2 separate regions of the Homo sapiens genome follow, and region 2 is linked to region 1. The links come from fine-mapping of genetic effects on gene expression. A gene starts in region 1. The other region holds a variant in brackets. All regions are shown on one strand. Distances are from middle to middle.

Region 1 (5,382 bases):
CTTCTAACCAGTTTCCCTATCTCCAGAGCCCCTCCCCTCCAAATTACTCTCCCCACTGCCACCAGGTTTCTTTTTTTACACAGACTTGAGCATATTTTTCCTTTGTTTCAAAACCCATTTTGTCTTCTAATTAACCATAAGATAAAGTCCAGATGCTCAGGCATTGAACATAAAACCCTTTATATCTTGGCCCAAACCTACAAAACTTTTCCAGTCCTACACCTTGCCTCTGCTCCCAAAACATGCCTTGCTCTTAGCCACATCCGATTATGATGCACCCTTTCTTGAACATGATTTTATTCACTGCGCCTTCGCTGGTGCCTTGAATGCCCTTCTCCTGTTCTTTGACTTGTAAAAATCTCATCCACTCTTCAAGATCATGCTCTCTTGTCACTTCTATTTTCAGGCACCCTTTGGCCCTAATTGACAGTGCTCTCCTCATTGCTTCTACAGTCTACAGCACTATTGGTATGCTACTACAGATAGTCTAAAAGTTGTTTTGCATCTCTTTCCTACTACATTGAGTTTCTTAACGGCAAGATTAAGCTTTGTTCGTCTCTATGTCATCAGCAGTTTGTCCAGTGCCTAGTACATGTTAGATACTGAATAAAAATTTATGACTTGAATTGGGCAGGATGCTTGAACATCATTTTGTGAAAGGACCAGTGATTTCTTTCTGTATAATTTTCAGCCTCTTCTTTTTCAGATATTGAAAGAACCTCAGAATAGGATGGTTGATGGGCCCACTTAAGATAGTTGCTATGTTATAGCCCCAATTTTTAGCCGAGTCTCTCTAGGGACATAGAAACCGTGCTTTCTCAAATGACTGATTGGTGCCTGAGTATGGATTTTTCCAGATATCAGAGTTCCTTAGAACTGCGATGATTTTCAATCTAAGAAGACCTAGATTCTAGGTTACACACACACACACTCAACCTCATCGTTTTGAATAGCAGATACAGGGTTTCAGTGTTTTTGTTTTACTCTCTGTGGGTTCTATCCCAGCATCTTACTAAGGGCTGAGATTTCAGGGCATGAAACACGGAATCAACAAAAACAAGGTTTTTACAATCTCAAAACTTTGGGAAACTGTTGAGTTATCTTGAAAGCCTAGAGGGGGAGCATCAGTTAGTTTTGTAGAGAACTCGGCGAAACAATATTGATGCATACGGCTAGCCTCTGTCATCCTCCTGAGTTAAACCCAACGGGACATGCTGGACTATACAGGAGCCACTCGTGGACTCCGTGAAGACCAGATGGGTAGTGTTCTTGAAATGAGCAGATGTCTATTTGTAGAACTCTGGTAGTAGCTTTGGAGTGGGTGGGGAAGAGCTTGGTTCCCATTCCCCCTCAAAGACAATTATTTGCTTCTGATGAGAATCCAAGCAACAAGTTGCCATTGAGAATGCAGTGATTGGTCAGCAAACGAAGCCTATAGGAAGAGCCTTCGGGTGCATTCCTTGTGACATATCGACCCGTCCTAAGCCCGACGCTTAATTATGGGACCTCTCAGCTCCTCCCTCCCGCCTCGAGCTCCCTTTTGGCTTCTCACAAGGCTTCCTGGGGACGATTCCCCGATGCTAGAGTACTGGGGGTCTGGGCCCACAGGGAACCCGTCAGCCTCCCTCCTTGGAGCGGGCCTGATCCCGGGAGGGCGCCCGCGCGGCCCGGAGGCGGGAACCTAGGGGGAGAAGGCGCCGGCGCCGCCCTGGCGCGCAGACCATCTGTGCGGTCCTGCGCGGGGGCAGGCGCGGCCTCAGCCCCCGGGCGCTGGCGGACCCAGCGCGTCAGCTAGGCCGCCCCCGTCGGCCCTCCCCCGGGCGGGGCCAGCCCCGACGGCGCTGACTCAGCAACGCGAGGGGGGAGTTTTGTCCCTCCGCGGACCCCGTTTCTCCCAGCCTCAGCCTCCCCGCCGCCGCCGCCGCCGCCGCCGCCGAGCCGGTTTCCTTTTTCCGGCGCTCCGGGTGCGAGAGACAGGTCGGGCCCCCTAGGCAGCGAGCCGCAGCGCAATCCCGGCGCTCGCCCAAGGACCCTGGAAGCTACCGTTACCCCGCCGGGCAGCGTGGGCGCCATGAGCAGCTCGGGTGAGGTGCCGCCGTCCCCCGCCGCGGTCCTCTGGAGGAGCTCCGCGGTCCCCGTGAGGCCCGGCGGCGGGGAAGGCCGGGGGCTGGGACCCTTGGCGATGGCGGGGAGGGAGCTTTCGGGGCAGGCTGGATCGGCCTGGAGGGAGACAGCTCCTTGGAGGAGGATGCCGCTTATGGGTTTCCCCGCTGCAGCGGGCACCCCAGGATGCGCTTACGAAGTTAGATTCGGGACGCGGGAGCCCCAGATCAGCCCTTTCCCCCTCTTTTTGCGTTAAAATCCTGTTTGGTCTCCCAACAGGACTGAATTCGGAGAAGGTAGCTGCTCTGATACAGAAACTGAATTCCGACCCCCAGTTCGTACTTGCCCAGAATGTCGGGACCACCCACGACCTGCTGGACATCTGTCTGAAGCGGGCCACGGTGCAGCGCGCGCAGCATGTGTTCCAGCACGCCGTGCCCCAGGAGGGCAAGCCAATCACCAACCAGAAGAGCTCAGGTGTGGGCTTCCACTTCTCCCATACGTTCCTTGACCTTCCTGACAGCGTCCCATTTTGGTGTCTTATTTAAGAGTGGTCTTAAATTCGTACTGAAAGAACTGGTCGTAAATTCGTAAAGAATGAGGCACAGGTACAGGCAGGTCTAAGAACATTACCCATGTGGTTTGTTTTGCTGTTCTGTGGCTTGTTAGTACATGCGGTTAGAGTACAAAAGTGACATGTCCATGAGTATACGTTTGAGTGTAATTGACTATATTATGTTCCAATGCTGTGTGGTTTGTAGCCCGTGTCTTGGAGATGTATGGTCTTGGTCACAAAACAGAACATGTGAAAATGTTCATATCTTTGGAGGACTCCCCAGAAATGCCCTGAAGGCCCTATACTATGAAATAGAAAAGATACAATGTAATTACATTAAAATGTCATCAGATGTTACTTTTAAATATGCTTCTTGGTTACAACTGAAGCTAATGTGCTGATGGGCTCAGTTCCCACCAGTAGATCAGTTTGTAATACAGAAAAAAGTTCTGTTCTCATGCCTTGCTGGTCAAGAAGTCTCGTTTTGCTATCTGCTTTCTAGCACCACTCTCAGAAAAAACAGGTATAGTGAAAGATTGGATATCCAGCAATCTAAATAAGGAGCACATTCTCACAACAAAATTGTACTAAACGGATTTTTTAAAGTCTTTCTATACTTAAAAACGACCCCCCAGTCTATCTATACGGACAGGAAGCACATCAGTGCTTGTTTAGAGTCGGTTAGAACTCACAAAGCACACATTTAACGTGAGTACATTTTATTGTATGTACATTATACCTGAATAAAGTTGATTTTTTAAATGTTAAGGAAAAAGTCAAGACCTTACAATAATTAATGTTTTGCTTTAGAAGAAAGTGCTTGGAGTGGTGTGGGCTCTCAGGCTACAGATGATCCAGTTAGTAATGTCACAGTGGTCCTACATAGTTTAGATTGCAGTGACCCGTTAGGGAACAGGTCAGGTCTTACACATTTTGCAGTGTCACTTTTACATACAAAAGATCCAAATAGCATGTGAGTTGTGTAGTTTATTTTCATGCAGTTTTCACATCACCAGTGCATCCAGATCCCCTCTACTAGAAATATATAGCATATAGAAGAGAGGTGACATACAGGTAAATGTAAGGTAAAGACGAACTAATAGGCACTAGTGACTTTCATAAAACACTATAGTTAACTAGAGTTTTCTTCTTGTTACAAAATTATTTTTGTTTAATGTAGAATATTTGTAAATACCAAGTAAATATTTTTCTTGTATATTTGTCAAGTTTTGTGTGTGTGTGTGTGTTTAATAGTGTTTAATATGCATTGATACCTTATACATTGTTATGTAAGCTACCTATCTTTTTCACTTACCAATATATTATAAACATATTTTCATATTAGTAAAAAGGTTATACCCAATACAAGTCAAAGTTTTTCCCTCAGAATTTTCCCTCAGAAAAGAGATAATTTCCCTGTATTTAAGACCTTAAAAGACTTTTCTAATGGCGCTCTCAGTTAATTTATTTTGAAGTAGAGTACAATTTGGAGAAGGCATTACTCTGAAAAATGGATTCTTTATTTGATACGTAAAGAGTGTTTTTGTGTTAAAGATATTAAACCTTTGCATATATATTGCTAATAATAATTACCACCTTTCTTGTTTTGTTTTTAATCTTTCTGCTCTTTCTGATTTACTCTTTCTGAATTGTCCAGATCGTGTCATGAGTTCATTGGTGGGAAATACAGTTGGAGCAGTGCAGTCTATGTGAACCCTCATAATTTCTTGATGTGCTTTCTTGTTTCAGGGCGATGCTGGATCTTTTCTTGTCTGAATGTTATGAGGCTTCCATTCATGAAAAAGTTAAATATTGAAGAATTTGAGTTTAGCCAATCTTACCTGTTTTTTTGGGACAAGGTATGGGACAGATCTGGCAAGATTCTTTTTGTATTGATATCAGCCTTGGTAGGGACTGCCTCTTCTTTTGTAGCTTTTCCAGTTATAGCCTGCCCTTTCATAATAGGTGAGACACCTTTTATTCTGACTTCCAGAGTATCAAAAGTTGACTCTTTCAAAGGCAGAACTGTTTTTGGTTGGTAGGTGGCCATTTTTTTGCAATGAAATAAGTTTACTGACTCATCTTACTGCTTGCTTGTCTATTTAAAATTTTAAATTTTATATTCAATATTCAATTCAATATATCTCCCTTTTTAACATCTTTTTAGGTTATTTGTTCTTTTCTAGGACCTAATTTCCCTCTCAAGAACTTGTCTGAAAAACAGTAAATAATTTTATTTGATTGTTTATTTGTTTATTTATTTTTTTGAGACAGTCTCACCCTGCCACCCGGGCTAGAGGGCTGTGGCACAGTCTCGGCTCACTGTAACCTCTGCCTCCTGGGTTCAAGCCATCCTCTCAACTCAGCCTCCCAAGTAGCTGGAATCACAGGCACATGCCACCATGCCCAGCTAATTTTTGTATTTTTAGTAGAGACAGGGCATTTCACCGTGTTGGTCAGACTGGTCTCGAACTCCTGACCTCAAGTGATCTGCCTGCCTTGGCCTCCCAAAGTGCTGGGATCACAGGTGTGAGCCACCACTCCTGGCCATATTCCATTTCCTAATCTTCAAAATGTATATTACTGACCTGGTTTGGTGGCTCATGCCTGTAATCCCAGCACTTTGGGAGGCTGAGGTGAGAGGATTGCTTGAGCCCAGGAATTTGAGACCAGTCTGGACCTGGCGAAACCCCATCTCTACAAAAAATACAAAAATTAGCCAC
Region 2 (5,382 bases), 36 kb before region 1:
ATGAGAATCAGGCATCAGTACTTTTTTTTGGGGGCAAGGTCTTGCTCTATCACCCAGACTGGAGTTCAATGGTGCGATCTTGGCTCACTGCAACCTCCACCTCCTGGGCTCAAGCGAGTCTCCCACCTTATCCTCCCAAGTAGCTAAAAGTATGGGTGCACACCACCATGCCTGGCTAATGTTTTTTTTTTTATTTTTTTATTTTTTGTAGAGACGGAGTCTCACTATGTTACCCAGGCTGATCTTGAACTCCTGAGCTCAAGCGATCCTCCCGCCTCTACCTCCCAAAGCCCTGGGATTATAGGCACAGCACCCAGCTACATCAGTACTTTTTAAAAGATCCCCTGGTGATTCCAATGTGCACAAAAATTTGATGACCACATTTTAATCTTTTTCTTTTTCAGTTAACAATACATTATGAATATTTTTCATTATAAAATCATATAGATCAATATGACTATTTTTAATCGTTGAGAGTTTATTTTGTTCTACTGATGTAACATAACTTATTTAACCAATCCCCTGTTCATGAGCATTAAGGTTGTTTACTCTGTATATCTAAATAGTTTCTCCCTATACTCCCAGGTTCTGTTTTAACTGTGAATGGTAAAACTGAGAACTATATCCTGGATACTACACCTGGCTCCCAAGCATCTCTGATATGTGCTGTTCAAAACCACACCAGAGAGGAAGAACTGCTCTGGTACCGAGAGGAGGGGAGAGTGGATTTGAAATCTGGAAACAAAATCAATTCCAGCTCTGTCTGTGTCTCTTCCATCAGTGAAAATGACAACGGAATCAGCTTTACCTGCAGGCTGGGGAGGGATCAGTCCGTGTCCGTTTCGGTGGTGCTGAATGTTACTTGTGAGTGAGGGGAAAAGAAACAGCTAGTGGGTCTGTAATGTCTGTAACACATGAAGTGGTAGTTGAAATCTAGGTCTTGGTATTGCCAAATTGCCCAATTTATGCTCCTACCACAAAGTATGAGAGTACCTATTTCCCCTCACCCTCATGAGCACTGAGTATCGCCAAACTCTGAGAATTTGCCAGCCTCCTTTGAAATTTTCTTTTCCTTTTCTTTTTTTTCTTTTCTCTTTTCTTTTCTTTTTTCTTTTTCTTTTTTCTTTCTTTCTTTTTTTTTTTTTTGAGACAGAGTCTCGCTCTGTTGCCCAGGCTGGAGTGCAGTTCAGTGGCGCAATCTCGGCTCACTGCAACCTCCACCTCCCGGGTTCAAGCGATTCTCCTGCCTCAGCCTCCTGGGTAGCTGGGACTGCAGGTGCCCACTACCATGCCCAGCTAATTTTTAATTTTTGTATTTTTAGTAGAGACGGGGGGTTCACCATGTTGGCCAGGCTGGTCTCAAGCTCCTAACCTCGAGTGAACCGCCTACCTCAGCCTCTCAAACTGCTGGGATTACAGGTGTGAGCCACTGCACCCAGCCTGTTTTCATTTTTTAAATTAAGAATGAGGGTGTTCACCTTTGTGTAAACATAATGGTCTTTTTTTTGTTTGTTTCCATGAAATGCCTGCTTGTATCCTTAACTCATTTTTTTCCGTTGGGTTTTATGCTTTTTTCTCATTAATCTGTACAAGGGCTTTGTAGATTAAGGAAATTAGTCCTTTGTCATTTTGAATTGTAAGTATTTCTCCTATTTGTTTTTGAAAATTTTTATTGTTCTTTTTTGCCATATTGAAATTTTAAATGTTTATATATTTAAAGCTTCAAGTCTTTTCCTTTGTAGTTCCTAGCTTTTGTGTTCTGCTTAGACAGATTTTCATGGCCTGGCACAGTGGCTCATGTGTGTAATCCCAACACTTTGGGAGGCAGAGGCAAATGGATCACTTAAGATCAGGAGTTCGAGACCAGCCTGACCAACAATGGTGAAACCTGGCCTCTACTAAAAATACAAAAATTGGCCAGGTGCGGTGGTAGGCACCTGTAATCTCAGCTACTCAGGAGGCTGAGGCAGGAGAATTGCTTGAACTCAAGAAGCAGAGGTTGCAATGAGCTGAGATGCCACCACTGCACTCCAGCCTGGGCAACAGTGTGAGACCCATCTCAAAAAAAAAAAAAAAAGATTTTCATTAGGGAATCTTTAAACATCACCTTAAAATCAAAAAAGGTGAAGCTTTTCAATGATTGGGTTCCAGGTATTGGTAACCCATTGGTAGAACTGTATAGGCTTAGGGGACTGTCAAGTGATACAATGTAGATGATCACATGGGTTGTTGGGTGAAAAGCTGGTTCTGCATGAGAATGGTGTGGATGGTATGGCAATGGGTGAGGTATAATGATGCAGTATGATTTGGTAGAAAGACCCTATCTCTACAAACATAACATAGTGAGACCCTATTTCTACCAAAAAAAAAAATAAGGTGTGTTTTTAATTAGCTGGGCATGGTGGCACACATCTGTAGCCCCAGCTGCTCGGGAGGCTGAGGCTACAGGATCTTCTGAGCCCAGAAGTTTGAGGCTTCAGCGAGCTGTGATTGCGCCACTGCATTTCAACCTGGGCAACAGAGTGAGACCCTGTCTCAAAAAAAATAAAATAAAATAAAATAAAATAAAAAGCCAGCTAAGGAAACTAAGGCCCGGACTAGGGGCTCAAATCATAGGTGCAGCTGAGAATAAAACACTAATTCCCAAGCTTCTAACCTAGTGCTTAAGTGCTTATTCCACGAAACTTTTTTTTTTTTTGAGACAGGGTCTCACTCTGTCACCTACACTGGAGTGCAGTGGCACAATCTCAGCTCACTATAACCTCTGCCTCCCAGGCTCAAGTGATCTGCCTGCCTCAGCCTTCCAAGTAGCTGGGACTACAGGCGTGCACCACCAGGCCGAGCTGATTTTTGTATTTTTTGTAGAGACGGGGTTTTGCTATGTTGCCCAGGCTGATGGAACCCTCTTAAGGGAGACATGGCAGAAATGCCAACAATGTGATTTGATGACTTAAAGAAATTGTTTTCAGTTTTCTAGCCTCAATCCACTGTTTAAATTCTGTTTATAACAATCTCCTAAATATCATTGTTGCTAAGTGTGTGTGTGTGTGTGTGTGTGTGTGTGTGTGTATAGTTAATTGCTCAGTAATCCATAATGACAGTACTGACACAAAGTCATCAACCAATAAATCAAAATGAGCTCATAAAATGTGACAAGGATATTATGTACCCTTCAAAGGCAGGACCATTATTGTTATAAATAGCAGAATCAAGAACTAAATGGAAGCTTGATAATACACTGTTTGGGGGAGAATGTGGAGAAACAGGTCCTCTCATACCTCGTTGCTGAAAGTTTAAATTGAGAACACCTCTTTCAAAATACTTATCAAAATTTAAAGTGTGCATATCTTACGACACACCATTTCTCCTTCTAGATGTTAACGTTGGAGAAATACATG[T/C]ACAGGATCATAAAGAGATATGTACAAGGATGTTTATTGTAGCATTGTTTAACATTTTAAAATGAAAACAACCTAAAGCCCATCAAAACACAAATGATTAAAGGCATACATTATACTATAGCATTCTAAAAGCAATAAGCTAGATCTCTGTGGTTCAATATAAACATATCTCAAAAACATGCAAGTTACTGAGAGAAAGGAAGTATTTTATGTAAAACCTTCCCATGTCCCTAAAATAATATGATATATTTCCTATGGGTACACTATATGTATAGAAAACTATTTAAGAAAAAAGAAAGATAGGGAAGGATTTACACCAAACTCATAACAGTGGGTATCTCTGGGGATCAGGAAGTGACCAGCTTGGATCTTAGCTTTATCTAAAATGTACTAATTTTTACAGAGGGGATATTCACATATACTGATATGCTTAAATTAATTTCAAATAGTTAAATAGAAAGAAATCACTAACAGAATCTGTCCACAAATGGAATTGTTCCATTTGGCAATTATGTTCTCTATTCCAGCAGCTTCCTTCCTATCTGAATACCATATAACATCCTTGTTGGATATGATACAGAATTCGAGCTCATTCCAAAGAGCAACAAAATGTCATTCTTCTGAGAGAGTTATTAATAACACAGCCTACTCAGGGTCTAATTATTCAGTGTGCAGATTATACAAGCTCCTTTTTCCTCCTTCTCCGTCTCTATCTTTTTCCTAGTTCCCACTCTCCAACCATTTCATTACTATTCTGCACTTCTGCCAGAATATGCACAGTGATAGATGTGTTGACTGTCTATGGGTCTACAACTGCCCTTATTGTAGAGGAAAAAAGGAGTTGCTCACACACAGGGATGAGAGGGACTCACTTGCCTTCCACAGATGCCAGAGTTCTCATGCTTAGAACACCTTCTGGGAGGAGGACATTATTTCTAGAGCACCACTGAGAAAACGCAAAGATGCATTGGTGAATATGTTACCAAGGCAATGGTTCGATAAAATGCAAAAACAGACGGTGAGAGTAACCCTCAAAACCACCACCACCGTAATAATAATAGCGGCTAGCACTGTGGCAAATTCTTTACAGGGATTATTTTATTTAATCTTTACAGCATCTCAGGAGATGTATGATTATCCCATTTTTTTTTTACATGAGAAACAGAGGCCTTAGCAGTTAGTTAACTGTCTCAAAGTCACAGTAAACGGTGTAGATGGAATTAGATCTAATTGCAATGTATGTCTTCTTAATTTTGTACTGTTTTGTGCAACACTAGCACAGGTTGGTTTATTAATTCTCAGAGAAGAAAGACTCAAGGCTTATACTCTTGGGTAGTGTTACAAATTGTCTGCTTGTCATAGATCATTACTATATATATCATGCTCATAATCATATATTGTTTCATGGTTTGTCTTCTTCATCACATTAAAAGTTCTATGAGATTTGGAACTGGAAGTGTTATTTGCCCTTGTTACCCCAGTGCTTGTCACACCGTACGTATTTAATAAATTTTTGTCAAATGAATAAATGACCACATGAGATAGATTGAAGGAAGACTTTGAACTCTGACAGTGAACTATTGCTTATCTGCTAATTAAATCTAAATGCTTGAGTCTTGCAGTTCCTCCTCTCCTAAGTGGAAACGACTTCCAAACAGTTGAGGAAGGCAGTAATGTGAAGTTGGTTTGCAATGTGAAAGCCAACCCCCAGGCTCAAATGATGTGGTACAAAAACAGTAGTCTCCTCGATTTAGAGAAAAGCCGTCACCAAATCCAACAGACAAGTGAGTCTTTTCAGCTGTCAATCACCAAAGTCGAGAAGCCTGACAACGGAACCTACAGTTGTATTGCAAAGTCATCTCTGAAAACGGAGAGCTTGGACTTTCACCTGATTGTTAAAGGTAATGCTCTTTTTAAGTAATACCCAGCACAGTGCAAAACTCACACCAGATGCTCAGTGAATATTTCTGGTGACAATAAATGA

Direction of the effects. Alleles are on the strand shown, and positions count from the first base shown. SD is a standard deviation of normalised expression in the study named.
With allele T in place of C in region 2, the expression in Th17 cells of the gene that starts at base 1,947 in region 1 is higher (large effect, 0.83 SD a copy in Schmiedel 2018).

Evidence for each region. PIP is the estimated chance that this variant, and not a neighbour inherited with it, causes the effect. A credible set is the group of variants that fine-mapping cannot tell apart.
Region 2: its variant is the best candidate, but not a certain one, in a credible set for the expression of BLMH in Th17 cells (Schmiedel 2018, PIP 0.58).

The regions. Positions count from the first base shown.
Region 1 is chr17:30,288,509-30,293,890 of GRCh38, reverse strand. BLMH (bleomycin hydrolase) reads left to right here and starts at 1,947. Exons shown (of 12, transcript NM_000386.4): 1 at 1,947-2,084; 2 at 2,383-2,580; 3 at 4,409-4,518. The coding sequence starts at 2,072. RefSeq lists silencers at 1,537-1,946, 2,147-2,216 and an enhancer at 2,667-2,726.
Region 2 is chr17:30,324,733-30,330,114 of GRCh38, reverse strand. TMIGD1 (transmembrane and immunoglobulin domain containing 1) reads left to right here. Exons shown (of 7, transcript NM_206832.3): 3 at 586-864; 4 at 5,021-5,299. Among named protein-coding and RNA genes, the nearest start is that of TMIGD1, 6.6 kb to the left of the region's middle. The variant T/C (reference allele first, on the strand shown) is at 3,399.